Regions from separate parts of the Homo sapiens genome. Here all the other regions are linked to region 3. The links come from fine-mapping of genetic effects on gene expression. A gene starts in region 3. Each other region holds a variant in brackets. All regions are shown on one strand. Distances are from middle to middle. Region 1 has its middle 3.0 kb from the start of MIR422A. Region 2 overlaps HERC1 (HECT and RLD domain containing E3 ubiquitin protein ligase family member 1). Region 3 holds the start of HERC1 (HECT and RLD domain containing E3 ubiquitin protein ligase family member 1). Region 4 overlaps HERC1 (HECT and RLD domain containing E3 ubiquitin protein ligase family member 1).

Region 1 (4,486 bases), 34 kb before region 3:
GCTGGATTTGGTAATTGGTTCTTGGGTTTTAAAGACTTGGTATTTCCACGGTGAGTCATAATTGTTCGTTGACATACCTCATTGCCTAATGCCATTTATAGCCCCAAAAGATAACATACATCACATGAGGATTTTTTAAGCTCACTTCTTTAAACAGATTCTATATTGTACTGTTTGCTAGGTCATTCATCCATCCAGTATTCTCTCTGCTTCCTCATTTCTCCTGTGTGCTGGAGACTGTGCTCTCACCTTCACACCCCTCATTTTATTTAATCCTCACAACCATCTCAGCGAGGCAAGAATTATTATCCCCTTTTCAAAAATGAGAAAAATATGACTCAGAGAGGTTAAGTGATGTGCCCAGGGCCACACAGTAAGCGACTGGAATTAGGATTTCAACTTAGGGCACTGAACTTTTCATCATAGCAAATTGGCCTCCTCTCTCCTCCTAAGCTCCCCACTTCTCATAGCATTCAAGTCCTCCTCACTATTATGTGTGTTTGTGTGTGTGTGTGTGTGTGTGTTTTAGAGACAAGGTCTTGCTCTGTCATCCAGGCTGGAGTGCAGTGGTGAGATTATACCTCACTGCAGCCTCAAACTCCTGGGTTCAAATCACCCTCCCACACCAGCCTCTCAAGTAGCTGGGACTATAGGCACATACCACCACACCTGGATAATTAAAAAAAAATTTTTTAAAGATGGGGTCTTGCTGTGTTGCCCAGGCTGGTCTCAAACTCCTGGCCTGAGGGAATCCTCCCACCTCAGCCTCCTGAGTACCTCCACATTATTTTGAAGCAGAGAACACTGGGGATAATTATGAGTTTTTTGTTTGTTTGTTTGTTTTTGTTTGATGAGAAGAATATTGTCTAGGTTTATTTTATTTTTATTCTTGATGAGAAGAATATTGTCTAGGTTGATTTTGTATTATTATTCTTGATGAGAAGAATATCGTCTAGGTTGATTTTTTTTTCATGAGCTTATTTATTCATTCAATACATCTCAATGAGAACTGGCTAAACAGGGACACTTGGTGTTAGCCCAGAGACCTAGAGGTCATGGCCACTTATTACATGCCGGGACCCATGGTCATTCCATAACCACCCTGCTCCCACCCTGAAAAAGAGTCACAAACAATTAGGACCCAGACTGGTGGGTGGTCTTGTAGGAGAGGGTCTTGTAGGAGAGGGTCCAAAGAAGTGAGGACAAAACCCTACCAATTAGAAGTCAAGTCTGAACTCCAGACAGGAAAAAAGAAAAAAAACCCATCAACTCAAAAAACCCTCTGTTCCCGTTAAGAGCATAAGCTTTAGATTACAAAGTCTTACATAGTGGGAGATATCCTTGGGAAGGAGGTGTTGTGAGGTGGAGAAATAGAGGCACTGATGTTGGCACCCAGAAAATCTTGGGCCATCTCTCAGGCAAGTGGCTTGATCTCTCTGGCCTATGTTTCTTTATCTGCAAAACAGAAAGATGCTTTCTGTTTCTCAGGGTGAGGGGAGTAAATGAGCTAACATGTGCAAAGCCCTCCATTCCTGAAATGTGGCAGCTACTTTAAAATTGTTATTTCAATGCCATGAGTTATGTGTGGAGCAGTTGGTCCAGAATAGAGGGGGAACAAAATTTGGATCAAAGAACAGCCCCTGAGGGATTAAGCATTCATATAAGATAGACATGAATCATTGCAAAGGCACACCCTTTTTCCCAATGTGTCAATGAGACTTCTTCATCCAATGAGTTAGTCTAACCGGAGGTGAGGTGGGCTCTAATTCAAGACCTATAATAGACCAGGCATGTGCCATTGATAGATGCTAATGATGATTGCAAACAAAGGGGGGTGGCTGCATAAATGTAGCTTCCTCTACATGCTCTGGAGGAATGGGAACATCTATCTGAGACCTCTGGTTGGGGACTATAGGCTTAAGAAGGCCAATATAATAGGGAGGACAGCATGGTAGCGAGAAAGAAGGTGGACTTAAAGCCAGAAGAGCCAGGCTCAAGTCCCAGCTCTACTTTCCAACAAGCTTTGAGACCCTGGGCCAGCCACCAAGTGTCCTGTCTGGTTTATGAGAACAGTTGTCTTAGTATCTGCCTCACCTTGGTCATAAAACTGTTGTCAGAAAGACAAAGTAGGTCCCTCAAAAAATTAAACATAAAATTACTAGAAGATCCAGCAATTCCACTTCTAGGTATACAAAAAATTGAGGCTGGGCTCAGTGGCTCACACTTGCAATCCTAGAACTTTGGGAGGCTAAAGAGGGAGGACTGCTTGAGGCAGGAGTTCAAGACCAGCCTGGGCAACATAGTGAGACCCCCCCTTCTCTACAAAAAAAAAATTAAATTAGCTGGGCATGGTGGCATGCACCTGTGGTCCTGGCTACTAAGGGGGCTGACGTGGGAGGATGGCTTGAGCCTGGAAGGTTGAGGCTGCAGTGAGCTGTGATCACACCACGCACTCCAGCCTGACTGATAAAGTAAGATCCTGTCTCAATGAATGAATGAATGAATTGAAAGCAGGGACTTCAACAGATATTTTTACCCTCATGTTCATAGCAGCGTTATTCACAAGAGCCAAACAGTGGAAACAACCCAAGCATCCATTAATGGATGAATGGATAAGCAAAGTATGATACATACACAACGGAATACCATTTAGCCTGAAGAAGGAATGTAATTCTGATACATGCTTCAACATGATGATCCTTGAAAACACTATGTTAAGTGAAAGAAGCCAGACACAAAAGG[A/T]GGACAAATGTATGATTCCAGGTAGATGAGGTTCGTAGAGGAGTCAAACTCATAGAGAAAGAAAGTAGAGTAGTCATTATCAGGAGCTGGAGGAGGAAGCAATGGGGAGTTATTGTTTAATGGGTACAGAGTTTCAGTTTAAGGTGGTGAAAAAGTTTTAAGATGGATGGTGGTGATGCCTACACAACATGAATATACTTAATGCCAAAGAATTGTACAGTCAAAAATTGTTAAAATGCCCAACTACTCTGGAGGCTAAGGCAGGAAGACCGCTTGAATCCAGGAGTTCAAGGCTGAAGTGAGCTATGATTGTGCCACTGCACTCCAGCCTGGGTGACAGAGTGAGACCCTGTTTCAAAGAAAAAATAAAAAGTAAAAAAGATAAATTTTATATTATGTATATTTTAACACAATAAAAATTACCTTTTTTAAAAAAAGAAAGATATAGGCCAGGCGCGGTGGCTCACGCCTGTAATCCCAACACTGTGGGAAGCTGAGGCGGGCAGATCACGAGGTCAGGAGATTGAGACAATCCTGGCTAACACGGTGAAACCCCGTCTCTACTAAAAATACAAAAAAAAAAAAAAAGGAAAAAAAAATTAGCCCGGCATGGTGGCGGGTGCCTGTACTCAGGAGGCTGAGGCGGGAGAATGGCGTGAACCCGTGAGGCGGAGGTTGCAGTGAGCTGAGATCGCGCCACTGCATTCCAGCATGGGAGACAGAGCGAGACTCCATCTCAAACAAAAACAAAACCAAAAAAAAAAAAAAAAAAAAAAAAAGATATACTGTAGAGGAGAGTCATTTGCAATCTGTACAGCAACATGAAATAATTAGCTGTGGTAGAGGGGTTAGGATGCAATAGTTACATTATTATAACTACCCTCTACCACAGCTAATTACTATTGCTCTACAAGATTTCATATTGCTTTACAGGTTCTCTTAGAGCAATTGTCAAAATTGAGACCCTCATCCAGGACTTCTACAAACTGTTTTCCAATCTGAAAAATAGCAGGAAGGAGTAGATTTTTTTTTTTTTTAAGACACTGTAAGAGCTGAACGTGGTTTCCCTGGAAAGTGGGAAACGGGAGTGGTAGGGGCTGATGTTTTTCCTAACAGGTTTGTAGAACTGGAATCTTAAAAAAAAAAAAATGTTCCTGATTCATTATTTTCTAATGCTCTTTATTTATATCTGCTCTGATCATTGACTTCTATCCCACAATAAAGTTGAACCAGCCAGTGAAAACCATGGTTGTTATAGCTAGGAAGAGGGTGCTGAAGAACACTGAGCACCCTGTGTTCCTCCTTTCTGCTGGGCACGCAGTGATGGGGAGGGCCCTTACCCAGGACTGCTCAGTGTGTCCCCATCGGTAAAAGGAGCCATTGGCCTTCCTGTTTATCAGCCTCTCAAGCGTCTGCATCAGAGGCCTGGGTTCTCCAGAGCTTGGTTACCCCAGAGTGAGCTTTGCAGGTGGAGTTTGACAACTTCTGAGATGAAGATCAGACTCAGGGTCTAGGAGACATGGGCAAGGTTCTTAACCTGGAGCAGCCCAGAGGTCTGGGCCCCTTTAATGACTGTACACCACTTAGGGTGAAAATTAAATTGTAAACTGTGTGTATATGTGTTAATATATACCAACAAATAAAACTTAACTTGGGCAGTAAGTTGGCACGATTCCTATAAACAACACTTTATAGGAAATAATTAAATAAGCAAATTAATATGCCCATTCATGTTTTTTAACAG
Region 2 (4,486 bases), 55 kb after region 3:
CTCATTGTGTTGCCCAGGCTGGAGTGCAGTGGCACGATCTTGGCTCACCGTAACCTCCGCCTCCCGGGTTCACACCATTCTCCTGCCTCAGCCTCCCGAGTAGCTGGGACTACAGGTGCCCACCACCACGCCCAGCTAATTTTTTTGTATTTTTAGTAGAAATGGGGTTTCACCGTGTTAGCCAGGATGGTCTCAATCTCCTGACCTCGTGATCCGCCCACCTCGGCCTCCCAAAGTACTGGGATTACAGGTATGAGCCACCGCGCCCGGCCTTCTGTTTTACCTTTTTAATACTTGCTTGTTTTCTTTCTTTATTTCCTGTTGTTAGATGGCCTCTGTTTCTTTGATTCATTTCCTGTTCTGTCTTTGTATAATTTTGGAAAATATATGGATTTACCCAGATGACTAGACAGCAGTAATTAACCAGAAATGGAAATGAGGAAATTCCATTCATAGTAATCACAAAATCAAAAATACTTAAGAATCAACAGAAAAGCACAGGATTTATATGAAGAAAATCTAAAATAGGATAGGAGCAAATAGAAATGCATACTTTGTCCTTGGATGAACAAATTTCATAAAAATGTCTATTTTCTGAAAGTACATAAATCTAATGCAATTCAGATTGGAACCTCAATAGTGTGTTGGAAGGGATGGCATATAATTGAATAAAATAATCTTTTTTTTTTTTTTTTTTTTGAGATGGAGTCTCCCTCTGTCGCCAGGCTGGAGTGCAGTCTTGTGATCTCGGCTCACTGCAACCTCCACCTCCCGGGTTCGAGCGATTCTCCTGCCTCTGCCTCCCAAGTAGCTGGGACTACAGGCGCGCACCACCACTACTGGCTAATTTTTGTATTTTTATTAAAGACGGGGTTTCACCATGTTGGCAAGGATGGTCTCCATCTCTTGACCTCGTGATCCTCCCACCTCGACCTCCAAAAGTGCTGGGATTACAGGCGTGAGCCACCGTGCCTGGCCTGAATAATATCATCTTAAACTTTTGGGACTTGCCTTACCAGTCATCAGAACATTTATACATTTATAAGCCTATTGTAATCAAGTCACTGTTGTAAGAATAGACAAGTGGACCAGAATAGAGAATCCAGAAATAGATCCTGTTAGTGGAAAAGTGAGTTATTTTGTTGTTTAGATCTTCTGTTTTCTTATTTTTGTTCACTTGATCCATCTTGTACTAAGAGTGGTATATTCATGTCTCACGTTATTAGTGTTTCTATTTATGTTTCCTTGCATCTCCTGTAGTTTTTGCTTTATAAAAGCTGTGGCTGTGCTATTTTGTTTTAAAATAATGCCTGGCTAATTCTTTTGCTTTTTAAAGTAATTTCATCTCTTTGCTTGGAGGTCTTTAGGATTTTATCTTTGTCTTTGAAATATAATAGTTTTTCTAGGCTATTTCTTGGAGTTGATTGTCTGGGTTAATTTTCTCAAGTACCTTGTATATTGATTCAGATATTTTTTCTATTTTAGAAAGTTTTCTTGCATTGTAGCTATAAAACCAGCTCTGTTTTTGTTTGTTTTGTATTTTTCTTCCTCACGTAATCCAATAATATGAATATTATTCTTTTTTCTTATCTTTTTCTAATTATTTCTCTCACCCTTTTCATTTTTCTTTATGTCATTGAGTCTACTCTTCCTTGAACACTTTTATAATTCATTCTTCATTGCTGAGATAATTTTGCCTTTTTCTTCATATTTCTTTCCTGAGTTCAATTACCTCTTTCCCTTTCTTTCTTCCTTTCCTTTTCTTCTTTTTCTTTCTTTTTGTCTATTTCTGCTTTCAGTTTTTGAATTTTTGATTCAGGATTTTTCATATCATCATATGTTTCAGTTTATTTAATTTTGTTTGGATTGTTAACTTACACTTTGCTTTGTCGTCATCAGGGAATTTCCCTCAATTGATAAATGTAAAATTTAATTTTGTTTTGTTTTCTGCAATAGCTCTGTATGCACTTGAGTTTTCTCATGTTCGTTTTTGTGGTATCGAGTATTTTATAATATTCTTAATTTAATTGCATTCTCTTCAGTCAATATAGCAAAGTCCAAATACAATAGCAGAAATTTTGTTTGTTTTACTTGAGGAAAGGGTTGTTCTGTCTTCAATTTTATGGGTCTATTTTGCCTTGCAGGACACTAAATATTTCCCCTTTTTCTTCTTTTACCCTTCACCACTCAGTTGTTAAAGCATGCTTCTCTCTTCCTTTTTGCTTTTTCTTTCCTCTGCGTTTCAACAAATGCTTATTTAACACTTGTCTTTTTAAATTGCACCTGCTGTCTTAAACCGTGCCTTCTGCTTTAAATTAAATGTACTTTAAAATCTCTTCCCTGTAGTCTGTGCTCTGATCTGCCCAGATACTTTTCCAGTGTTTTCAGATACGGTGTGGATTTAATCTTTCTGGGAGTCACTCCAAATCATTTTTAGCCCCCTTCACTAGCCTTTCTCCTCTGTCTTTTCTGCAGTTTTTCTTAGTCTGCCTTTGCTTGCCACAAAGCCTTATGGCTGGATGGAGGTGAAA[G/T]CATGTACCCTGGATTGGTTGACTTTTTCTCTTTTTTATTTACAATTATTTGCAATTTTGGCATTCTGTATCTTCAAGTTATGCTACAGGTGTGGTTTGGTATAGAATTTAATTTTTCCTTCTTGTTTTTCTTAAATTTTGGGCAGATAGCTATGCAGCTGCCATTGTCTTCAACTATGTAGAAGTCCTGGATTACTTAATAAATGGTGTTGGTATAACTAGCCTTCTACCTGGAAACAATAAAATTGGACTCAGCTTGTCCTATATAGAGTGTATTAAACTTCCAGATGAATGTAGAATTTATTTTAATTCCAGATGGACTAAAGACTCAGGTTTTTAAAAAAAATCTCTCAAGAATATCAAGGTGGTTTTGTATAGGTGATTACCTATATAATCTAGAATTCATGTGGAATCTGGGTGTGAGAGTCGGGCAGGGATACTCTTTTGACCAAGAATGGAAAACAGAAGCTATAAAATAAAAGATGTGTGTGTATGTAAAAGATAGATTTAGAAGAAATATTTGCAATGTTGAGGACAGACTGTGATAAAATACAAAAAACTTTTACAAGTTGACAAGATAACAAAATAGGAGAATGCATGAATAAATATTTCCCAGAAGAGCATATCCAGATGACCAACAAACATAAGATGTTCAGATTTATTAGTAATCAGAGAAATACAAATTAGAGTAACAACGTATCCCTGTACAGCTATCAAACTGGCCAAATTTAAAACAGCAAAATTACATATGGCTTATGTGGGAAGGGATGGAGGTAAATAAGGCACTTTTATGTCCTCTGCACAATGCTGGTGTTTAATACCAAATGAAGTCAGGGTGGGATGGAGGATCATGATTTTCCCCCCTCTTAAGTGCATACTTTACAAGTATCTTAGGAAGATGAATTAAGCATAGTAATCATAAACTTGTGAAGGCAAGTGTCATCAGATTTTATATTTAGAATTTACCAGGGCATAATGAGATATAAGAAACTCCTTTTAATTACTGTAGTCTGGGATCTTTATCATTGGAGTGCTTTCTTGAAGATCTGCCTGTGTCATGAAAATTAAATTCCCTTCAGTGATTGAGGTTTCTCTCTATTACCAGCTATTATAAGTGACATTCTGAGGACTTGCTTGAGAGACACCTTCCCTGCAATATTTTGTAATTAAAAATTTTGTGTGTATATAAAAAATATATGTCAATGCATCTTATTTCTGATGCATTTCAAAATAAACTACAGATGTCTGTTTACTTCCCTCAAATATACTTCAGCTTGCATATCATTATTCAGTATTTGTTGAGGCAAAATTTACATGCAGTGAAATGTAAAAATCTCAAGTGCACTTTCACTGAGTTTTTTTATTTTTATTTTCTTATGTAGAGACGAGATCTCACTGTGTTGTCCAGGCGGGTCTCAAACTCCTGAGCTCAAGCAGTCCTCCTGCCTTGGCGTCCCTGAATGTTAGGATTATGGGTGTGAGCCACCATGCCCAGCCCACTAGGTTTTAACAAATGCGCAACCTGTGTATTCCACACCAGTATTGAGACATAGAATATTATCTCAAGAAGTGTCCTCATGCTCCTCACAGTCAGTTCATGCTGTCACCCTCTAGAGGCAACCACTATTTTGATTGAAGTATTTTTATGGTCTTATGTTTTCTTTTGGATAAATCTTTAGAAGAGGAATTGTTGGGTCATAGGGTTAGATATATGTTTCGTTTTATGAGAAACTGCCAGCCACCTTTCCAAAGTGGGTGTTCCATTCTACAATTATGAGTCCCAAAGTTTTTGGCTCAGGGAACTAGAAGGATGGAGTTACCATTTATTGAGAGAAAGAAGTCTACAGGAGGGACAGGTTTGGGTGGGGTGGTGGTACTGGTAGAATAGGAGCTCAGTTTTGGATATGTTAATTTTGAGATATCCAACCATAACCAAAACTGTTAGATAGCCATGT
Region 3 (4,486 bases):
ATGGTAAAAGAGGGAGTCTCTTGATTGGTCTTTAAAGTAAGCAGTCCTTTTCTTGAAATAGAATGGGCAAAACCAGGCTGGGCACGGTGGCTCACCCCTGTAATCCCAGCACTTTGGGAGGCCAAGGCGGTCGGATCACAAGGTCAGGAGTTCGAGACCAGCCTGGCCAATATGGTGGAACCCCATCTCTACTAAAAATACAAAAATTAGCCAGGCATGGTGGCACACACCTGTAATCCCACCTACTTGGGAGGCTGAGGCAGGAGAATCGCTTAAACCTGGGAGGCGGAGGTTGCAGTGAGCCAAGATGGTGCCATTGCACTCTAGCCTGGGCAACAAGAGCAAAACTCCATCTCAAAAAAAAGAAAAAGAAAAAGTGGGCAAAACCAGTACAATTTTACAAATTCAAGAAAGACAGAATATCATATTTGTGAGTGACGTAGATGACATCAACAAGTTAAAAGGAGGAGCTTTTGCTTGTTGTTTTTGAGTATGCTTCACACACAATACCCAGATCATAAAGCACTAGCAACAATGACATCACTCCTCATGTAGCTACTCCCTTACATCATTTACCAGAAATACACATTTTATACATAGAAACTTAAAAGCTACACACCTAAGACCCATCATTTAATGAGTACTTAATATGTGCCGTATGTGAGCTTTACATATATTTTACTCCTCAGAGGAACCTTGTGATAACAAGAACTGGCATTATAAATTGACACATAAGGAACTGAGGTTCAGAGAGGTCAAGCAACTTGCCCAAGGTCACACACCTGGGGTAAGTGGGATTCCAGAATTCCCACCAGTGTCTGACAGTGAAGCACATGGCTCCTAACTCTTGGACTAAACTGCCTCATGTGACACACAAACATGTATCTAATTTAACCATGGGAAAGCACTCCCTCGTCTGTCTATACCGTAATTTCTTACATTAGTGACACATTCATGGCTTGTATGTTTGTGTGCTTCTCCTACGCCTCCAATTGGATTGCAAACTTCTGGAACGCAGAGGCCAACTCTATTTTTTGTCCCCAAGTCATCGGTCAGTTTAATTGATGCTCGTTAGAATATCTGGAAGGAAAGACACCATGAAGGTGGCTGGAAAGGAGTAAAACCAGGTACAGAAGGAGGAAGATGGAGATGGGGTATTCACTCAACAATTTAATGTCCACTTGGACCTATGTTAGGCGCTGGAGATATGGTGAGGACTGAGCCAGTCTGTGTCCTTCCCCTCATGGGGTTTCACGTGGAGGTCGAGGTCATGATCAAGGATGTAAGTCACCCAAAGGACACTACTGTGTTCCCAAGCAGAAAAGAAAACCGAGGAGCCAGGCCCTGGCATCTGCAGGGTTCTGGCAGTCCCATAAGGCGCAAAGACATGAACAAGGTGGAAGAGTAGGTCAAGTGAAACGCTTTTATGTGATTGAACTTAGCCGGCCGGAGGGCCGGGGCCGCTGCGATGAGAGATAAAGAGCGTGGGGCGCCGGGTGCGAGGCGGAGATAAAGGGGTGAGGCCCTGGCCCTGCCGCCGGCCGTAACACGTGTCCCTTCGCCTGGCGGCGGGGTCTTCCCTGCCCACCACGAGGAAAAGGGGGCGCACTGCATGGCCCCCCACTCCTCACCACCCTTTGTGAAACGCCCCCAATTGTGCTTCATCTGTGGAGTCAGGTCCCCGCAGGCGGTCGGGGCTGCCCGGATTCCGCGACGGCTGAAGGGTGAGGGCCGCGCGGTAGCAAAGTGTCCCCAGCACCTAGCTTGGCTCCCCTCGCTCCCAAATCCCTTTCCCCTTTTCGCTCAACCCCCAACTCCACCTCAGCCGCCTTCCTCTCGGTTCCCCTTTCACCTCCCGCGCTGGGCCTGTTGGGCGGGGCGAGGGCTCCCGGCTGCGCGAGAGTTCCGCCCAAATCTCGTGAGACTCGCCTGACGCCGCCGCTGCTGCCGCCGCCTCTTACGTCTTTCCCTTTGACAAGTCGCTGCTGCTGCAGCAAAAATAAAGGACGCGACCGCCGCAGCCTCTGCGGAGCCGGGCTCGGGTCGCCGGAGCCGCGCCCCACCCCGCCAGCTCCAGAGCCACGTACGGTAACGCATCATCTACCGTCCTCCTGGTCCTGTGTGTGTGTGTGTGTGTGTGTGTGTGTGTGTGTGTGCGCGCGCGCGTGTGTGCTTTGCCGGCCGCGCAGGGCCGGCCGGGGCCGTTTCGGGACTGCAGCCGAGCGGGGCTGCTGGGGTCCCGGGTGGGCGGCAGGCGAGCTGGGGGAGCCCTCCTGGCGCGCCGCGGATCCCCCGGGTCCCCGGCTCTAGAGGCCTCCTGCCGCCCGGGCGCCTCGGAGCAGCGTAGAAGCCGAGGCGCCCGCGGAGAGGGCCGAGAGACCCGCCCCTCCAGCGGCTTACAACGTCTGTGCCCCGGCCCCGCTGTGGTCGCGTCTCTTTCTGCTTCATTCCTTTATCTGCTGACCAGCTCCTCTGCCCCGGCTGGGGCTCGGTCCGCGGGCGGCGGCCGACTCCCTCTCAGGGTCCGGGGAGTGCCGCGACCCCGGTGTCCCCAGGCGCCGGCCGCCTTTAGCGGGGTGGAGGCTGGGACGACGTGTCTTCCTCCTCTCCTCTGCCTTTGGGTGAGGGCAGCTCATCATCTGCTAAACCTTTCTCCAAATCTCCCGCCCCAATAAAACAACAAATTATAAAGCCTTTGCAACCGGGAGGCGAGGCGGGGCGCATTGTTTAGTCTTAAGCGTGAGATGAGGATGATGATGGTGATGACAGGAGCTACCCCGGGGAACATGGTGAAATCTGTTCTGTGATGGGTGGCAGGTTACTGGGAGACACGAGGAGGACAGGAGCTTGTACCACCTCTCCCAGGAGGTTATGTAAAAGACATGTTATCTTAGAGAGCTGTGAAACACAGGGACAGATTTGTCTTAGTTTAAGAAATGTCTATAATACTTAGAATATAGAGATAATTAAATGATGGGAATAACAAATCTGAACAAACTAACCCATCTTTGTAATTCCATCTCCAGAGGTGGCATTTCATGGTTAACATTTTATTGTATTTCCTAACAGACACATTTTTTTTTATCCTTGCTTGGGACTTCCTCATTCTATATTTGTTCCAAAAATGATTTATTTTATTTGAATCAGTTCTCTGGCCTGCTTGATTAAAACTGGCTGCTAGTTCATTATCACTGGCTGAACTCTGCCATCACTATCTTTTTCACTGGGCCCTTTTCCAAAATGATTGTTAGCTAAGTGGTTTGAAAAATCAAACGTTAAAACATTGTCTGTTTGGGTCTAGTACCTATGTATATATTATATTTTTACAATTCTGTTAGTGGTGGTTGCTCAAAATGGGGCAGTATTTGTAGAAGGGAAAGAAACTATGATTATTCATAGTGGGAAGAAACCTATTTACCTCAGGTTTTATGAAATTGATTTCTACTGGATATTTTTAGACCAAAATTGTTCTGTGACATTGTTTCATAGTGCCTGTTGTGATTAGTGTGGGATGAGTATGTCTCTTTGATATATGTGTTTCCATAGCCTGCGTTTATACAAGCAAAATTGAATGTCCTAGGTGCCTGTCTTATGCATAAATGTACGTATATATGTATAGAGACACACACACACACACACGTATTCTGCACCTATACACATTTATATATCTTGGAAGTGAGTTAAGATGTATTGCTATATTATTTGAGAAAAGATAGCATTAGGAAGGGCAAAGAACAGTCATAATATTTCCCCCAAATCACATGACAAGGTTGTATGGCAGAATGAGATATCTAGGGAGGTTGGAAATCTGGAGCCTTTTAAAAATAGGATAGATTGTCATCTGGGGTTGTTGTTATTGGAATGGATTAAATGGCCTATTAAGGCCTCTTGTAATTCTAAACTTTTATGAATTTTGCGTTCCCTAAGGTTCTTATCATTTTGCTTCTTAAATTTCCAGTCATGCTGTTTGCATGTGACACATCCATTCATTTGCTGGTCATGTATTCCATTTCCAATGCAGGCACCCTGATGTTGCATGGAAGAGAAAGCAAATGTAAATGCGTCACTTAATCTGCTTATTAATATAAACATCTCTTGAAAATCTCAATTTAAAGAAATTTTGGAGAATGTGTTGGTGATTGGACTGGATTGGGTTAGTAGAGGGTGCAAATAATAAATAGTAATAACAATTCCAACGTTCCAAGCATGTTTTCCCCCAAAAAAGTCATACTGAATACTCCCTAATATTTGAAATAGAAAAAAAAGGGGGCTGGGTATATTGAAGGAGCTGACCTTTTAAAATTTTTAAAATTCAGATTTTCAGATCTTAAAATGATGATAATGATGACATCGTGGCTTGGAGAGTGAGAAGGTTGTGTTAGGATAAAAAGAAACTTGTGAAACAAAACTTGAATGTTATAGTTGGATAACTATATAATAGCAAGTAACAAACTTACTATAATCTGTTGAAGCTATTTTTAAAAAT
Region 4 (4,486 bases), 47 kb after region 3:
TTACTTTATTGACTGCTTAAAAAGAACTGAGACTCTTTGCTCTATGCCCTAAAACATTTAAAGTAGCTTAGGAATTGTCTGTTGAAGTCATGATAGAATTCTTCCTTAAAACAATCAGGGCTTTATTTTGTTGTGATTATAGTTTCTTTAAATCTCATTACTGATTTATTTCGGTAGTATCCCAACTATATTATCCCAATTCTCCAATTTACAGTAAATAACTGTTAAATTGGTTTTTTTGAAATGCATCCTTCATTGAGGGCATATAGGTATCAGATGCTGTGTTAGGTGCAGATAACACTTTTGTTCCCCAAATCATCAGTCTGACTTGTACTGGATTATAGAATAGAAACCCAAATTCATTTGTTTGTTAACTGTCTTTTTCACATTCTGTACTGCTTTTCATTTTCCTACAATTTTATACAAATGTCTTTATGTATTGTAGCTATTCTGATCTACTTCCTATTCTTTAAATGCACTTGAACTTTCTTTCCTTTGAGTTCAATTTGATGAAACTGGCTTGTAAGGTTTTTTGTTTTGTTTTGTCTTTTTTTTTTTTTTTTTTTTTTGAGACAGGGTCTCACCCTGTCGCCAAGACTGGAGTACAGTGGCACAATCTTGGCTCACTGCAGCCTTGACCTTCTGGACTCAGGCGGCCTCCCCAGTATGCCTCCCCAGCTGGGACCACAGGCATACACCACCACGCCCGGTTAATTTTTTGTATTATTTGTAGAGTCGGGGTTTTGCCATATTGTCCAGGTTAGTAAGTTTTTTAAAAAGAGATGGAGTCTTGCTGTATTATCCAGGAGTGATCATAGTGCACTACAGCCTTGAAATCCTGGCCTCAAGTGATCCTCCTGCCTTAGCCTCCCAAGTAGCTAGGACTGTAGATGTGTGCCACCGAGTCTGGCTCTATAATAGTTTGACCCATCAAAGTCATTCTTGATGTAGCGAACTTTTTTTGAGTATTTGTTGCCCACCATTGGTTCTCTCTTCTTTCAGTAACATACCCTCAGTTCATTTTGGGGAAGCATTATCTGCCAGATATATTTTTTTAATTTAAATAATTTATTGGTCAGCCGTGGCGGCTCATGCCTGAAATTCCAGCACTTTGGGAGGCTGAGGCAGGTGGATCACCTGAGGTCAGGCGTTTGAGACCAGCCTAGCCAACATTGTGAAACCCTGCCTCTACTAAAAATACAAAAATTAGCTGGGTGTGGTGGTGCATGCCTGTAGTCCCACCTACTCGGGAGGCTGAGGCAGGAGAATTGCTTGAATCCTGGAGGCGGAGGTTGCAGTGAACGGAGATTGCACCACTGCACTCCATCCTTGGTGACGGAGTGAGACTCCATCTCAAAAATAATAATATGATAATAATAATTTATTGAGACTGGGGATGGTGGCTCATGCCTGTAATCCCAGCACTTTGTGAGGCTGAGGCAGGCAGATCACTTGAGGTCAGGACTTCAAGACCAGCCTGGCCAACATGGTGAAACTCCATCTCTACTAAAAATGCAAAAATTAGCTGGGCATGGTGAGACCATGCCATTGCACTACCGACTGGGCAACAAGAGTGAAACTCCGTCTCAAAAAATAAAAAAAAAAAAAATAATAATTTATTGAGTTGAAGTTCACATCACGTACAATTAACCATCTTAAAGTGAGCGATTTAGTGGCATTTAGTACTTTCACAGTATTGTGCAACTACCGTCTCTAGTTCCAAAACATTTTCATAATTCCAAAGTAAAATCTTACCAGTTTCTCCATTTTCCCTTCCTCTCCAGCCTCTGGCAACTACTAATCTACTTTCTATCTCTAAGCATTTGGCCATCCTGTACTGTACATTTCTTATAAATAGAATCATACATTATATAGCCTTTTATATCTGGCATCTTTCAATTGGCAGAATGTTTACAAGGCTCAAATTATAGCATGTATCAGTATTTCATTCCTATTTATGGCTGAATAATATTCCACTGTGTAGATAATATGACATTTTGTTTATTCATTCATATCTTGATGGTCATTTGTGTTGTTTCCACTTTTTGGCTATTACGAGTAATGCTCCAGTGAATGTTTGTGTACAAGTTTTCATATGAACATGTGTTTTCAGTTCACTTGGGTATAGATCTAGGAGTCGAATTGTTGGGCCATAAGGAAACTCTGTTTTTAACTTTTTGAGATACCACCAGCAAACTGCTCTTCACAGCTGTCTTTCGATTCTTCTTCTTCTTCTTTTTTTTTTTTTTTTTTAATAGAAACATGATCTTGCTGTGTTGTCTAGCCTGGCGTGTAGTGGCTATTCTCAGGC[A/T]CAATCATAGCATACTACAGCCTCGAACTCCTGGCCTCCAGCAGTCCTCCCACTTTAACCTGCTAAGTAGCTGGGACTACAGGCACACTGCAGTGCATCTAGCTTGTCTTTCCATTCTTATTTATAATATTGAGTACCTTATGTTTTGTCTTTTTTTTCTTAATTTTGTTAGCTGATTGTTTTCATTTTTTTCCACTAAAGAATTATCTCTTGGGTTGGGCATGGTGGCTCACACCTGTAATCCCAGCACTTTGGGAGGCCCAAGTGGGAAGATTGCCTGAGTCCAGGAGTTTGAGACCAGCCTGGACAACACGGTGAGACCTCTGTCTCTAAAAAAGAAAAAGAAGAATAATCTCTCTGAGATATCAATCCTGTTGTTTTTGAATTTTTCTCATTTACCAATTTCCCTTCCCTTCCCCTTCCCCTTTTCCTTCCTTCTTTCCTTCTTTATTTAGAGACAGGGTCTCTGTTGACCAGGCTGCAGTGTAGTAGCATGATCTTGACTCACTGCAGCCTTGACCTCCTGAGCGCAAGGGATCATCCCACCTCATCCTGCTGAGTAGCTGGGACCACATCATGCGCCACCATTCCTGGCTAATTTTTTGTATTTTTTGTAGAGATGGGGTTTCTCCATGTTGTGCAGGCTGGTCTTGAACTCCTGAGCTCAAGTGATCCGCCCACCTTGGCCTCCCAAAGCCTTGGGATTACAGGTGTTAGCCAGCGTGCCCAGCCTAATATTCTTAAAGTTTATTTTGTTTTTCTAATTTTGAATTGAATTATTAATATATTTAATTTTTTTAAGAGACTTTGTCTCACCTTATTGCCCAGGCTGGAGTGCAGTGGTGCACTTATAGCTCACAGCTTTGAACTTCTGAGCTCAAGCGATCCTCCCACCCAAGCCTAAGTTGCTGGGACCACAGTCGTGTACCACCATGCCCAGATAATTTTTAAACATTTTGTCAAGGTAATGTCTTGCTATGTTGCTCAGGCTGGTCTTGAACTCCTGGCCTAAAGCTTCCTCCCACCTTGGCCTCTTAAAATGTTGGGATTATAGGAGTGAGCCACCACACCTGGCTTTCAGTTAATTCTTACTTAGAAATGGAGCATTTGAGTCTTTATATATTTATTTGAGTCAACTTTGACTACATTCCCTTGATTTTGATATATGTTTCTTTTATATAACTTTCTAGATAATTTGTAACTCCTTTCCCCTTCCTCTCTTTGTCTGAGAAACTTAGTTTCCAAAAATTTAGGTTTTGCCTTGTTTTGGATTTCTTTAAAAATGCTTTTTGAAAATTTGCACTGATAGGCCAGGGGCAGAGGCTCACGCCTGTAATCCCAGCACTTTGGGAGGCCGAGGTGGGCTGATCACCTGAGGTCAGGAAAGCGAGCCCATCCTGGCCAACACAGTGAAACCCCAACTGTACTGAAAATACAAAAAAAATTAGCTGGATGCGGTGGCAGCCACCTATAGTCCCAGTTACTTGGGAGGCTGAGGCAGGAGAGTCGCTTGAACCTGGGAGGCGGAGGTTGCAGTGAGCCGAGATTGCGCCACTGCACTCCAGCCTGGGTGACAGAGTGAGACTCTGTCTCAAAAAGGAAAAAAAAAAAAATTTGCATGATAATACATGCATATATAAGAAATTCAAATTTATGCAGTGAAGAGCAAATATCTTTCCTACCCCAGCTCCCAGTAACCCAATTCTCCTTCTCCCAGAGGCAACTAGTGTTCCTAGGTTTTAAAAAAATGTTTTCAGCATTTATTATTAAACCCTTTTTAATATAGTTATGTTACTGTATATGAACTATTACAGTATACACAAATACTTTACATATTTTTCTTTTTTAACAGTGTATCTTGGAGATTGCTCCATTTTAGTTGTTTTGTGAATTCTTTTTGGTTTCACTACTTTCTGGCTAGAACTGTGGTCTATAATTATGTGTATATTTTTGAATTATTTGTTAGATAATAGTCAATTTGAAAATATTTTCCACTGGTACTTAAAAAGAACATATTTTAGGATATGGATAATATTTTAGATTAGATTTATCATCTTGGATTACATAGATGACTTCAGGACATCCATGAAACCTTTGGAAATTTGCTCATTTTTATGAGTATGAGCATGAGTTTTATTCTTTTTTTTTTTTTTTGAGATAGAGTCTTCCTGTGTC

The links. PIP is the estimated chance that this variant, and not a neighbour inherited with it, causes the effect.
Region 1: its variant is the best candidate, but not a certain one, in a credible set for the expression of HERC1 in whole blood (TOPMed, PIP 0.78).
Region 2: its variant is the best candidate, but not a certain one, in a credible set for the expression of HERC1 in whole blood (TOPMed, PIP 0.65).
Region 4: its variant is the best candidate, but not a certain one, in a credible set for the expression of HERC1 in whole blood (TOPMed, PIP 0.62).

What each region holds. Positions count from the first base shown.
Region 1 is chr15:63,865,790-63,870,275 of GRCh38, reverse strand. No RefSeq gene overlaps it. Among named protein-coding and RNA genes, the nearest start is that of MIR422A, 3.0 kb to the left of the region's middle. The variant A/T (reference allele first, on the strand shown) is at 2,743.
Region 2 is chr15:63,776,226-63,780,711 of GRCh38, reverse strand. The region is part of intron 1 of HERC1 (HECT and RLD domain containing E3 ubiquitin protein ligase family member 1); the gene reads left to right. Among named protein-coding and RNA genes, the nearest start is that of HERC1, 55 kb to the left of the region's middle. The variant G/T (reference allele first, on the strand shown) is at 2,532.
Region 3 is chr15:63,831,424-63,835,909 of GRCh38, reverse strand. It overlaps HERC1 (HECT and RLD domain containing E3 ubiquitin protein ligase family member 1), which reads left to right and starts at 1,962. Exons shown (of 78, transcript NM_003922.4): 1 at 1,962-2,083. RefSeq lists enhancers at 1,774-1,903, 1,077-1,940, 1,941-2,806 and a silencer at 2,144-2,573.
Region 4 is chr15:63,784,044-63,788,529 of GRCh38, reverse strand. The region is part of intron 1 of HERC1 (HECT and RLD domain containing E3 ubiquitin protein ligase family member 1); the gene reads left to right. Among named protein-coding and RNA genes, the nearest start is that of HERC1, 48 kb to the left of the region's middle. The variant A/T (reference allele first, on the strand shown) is at 2,312.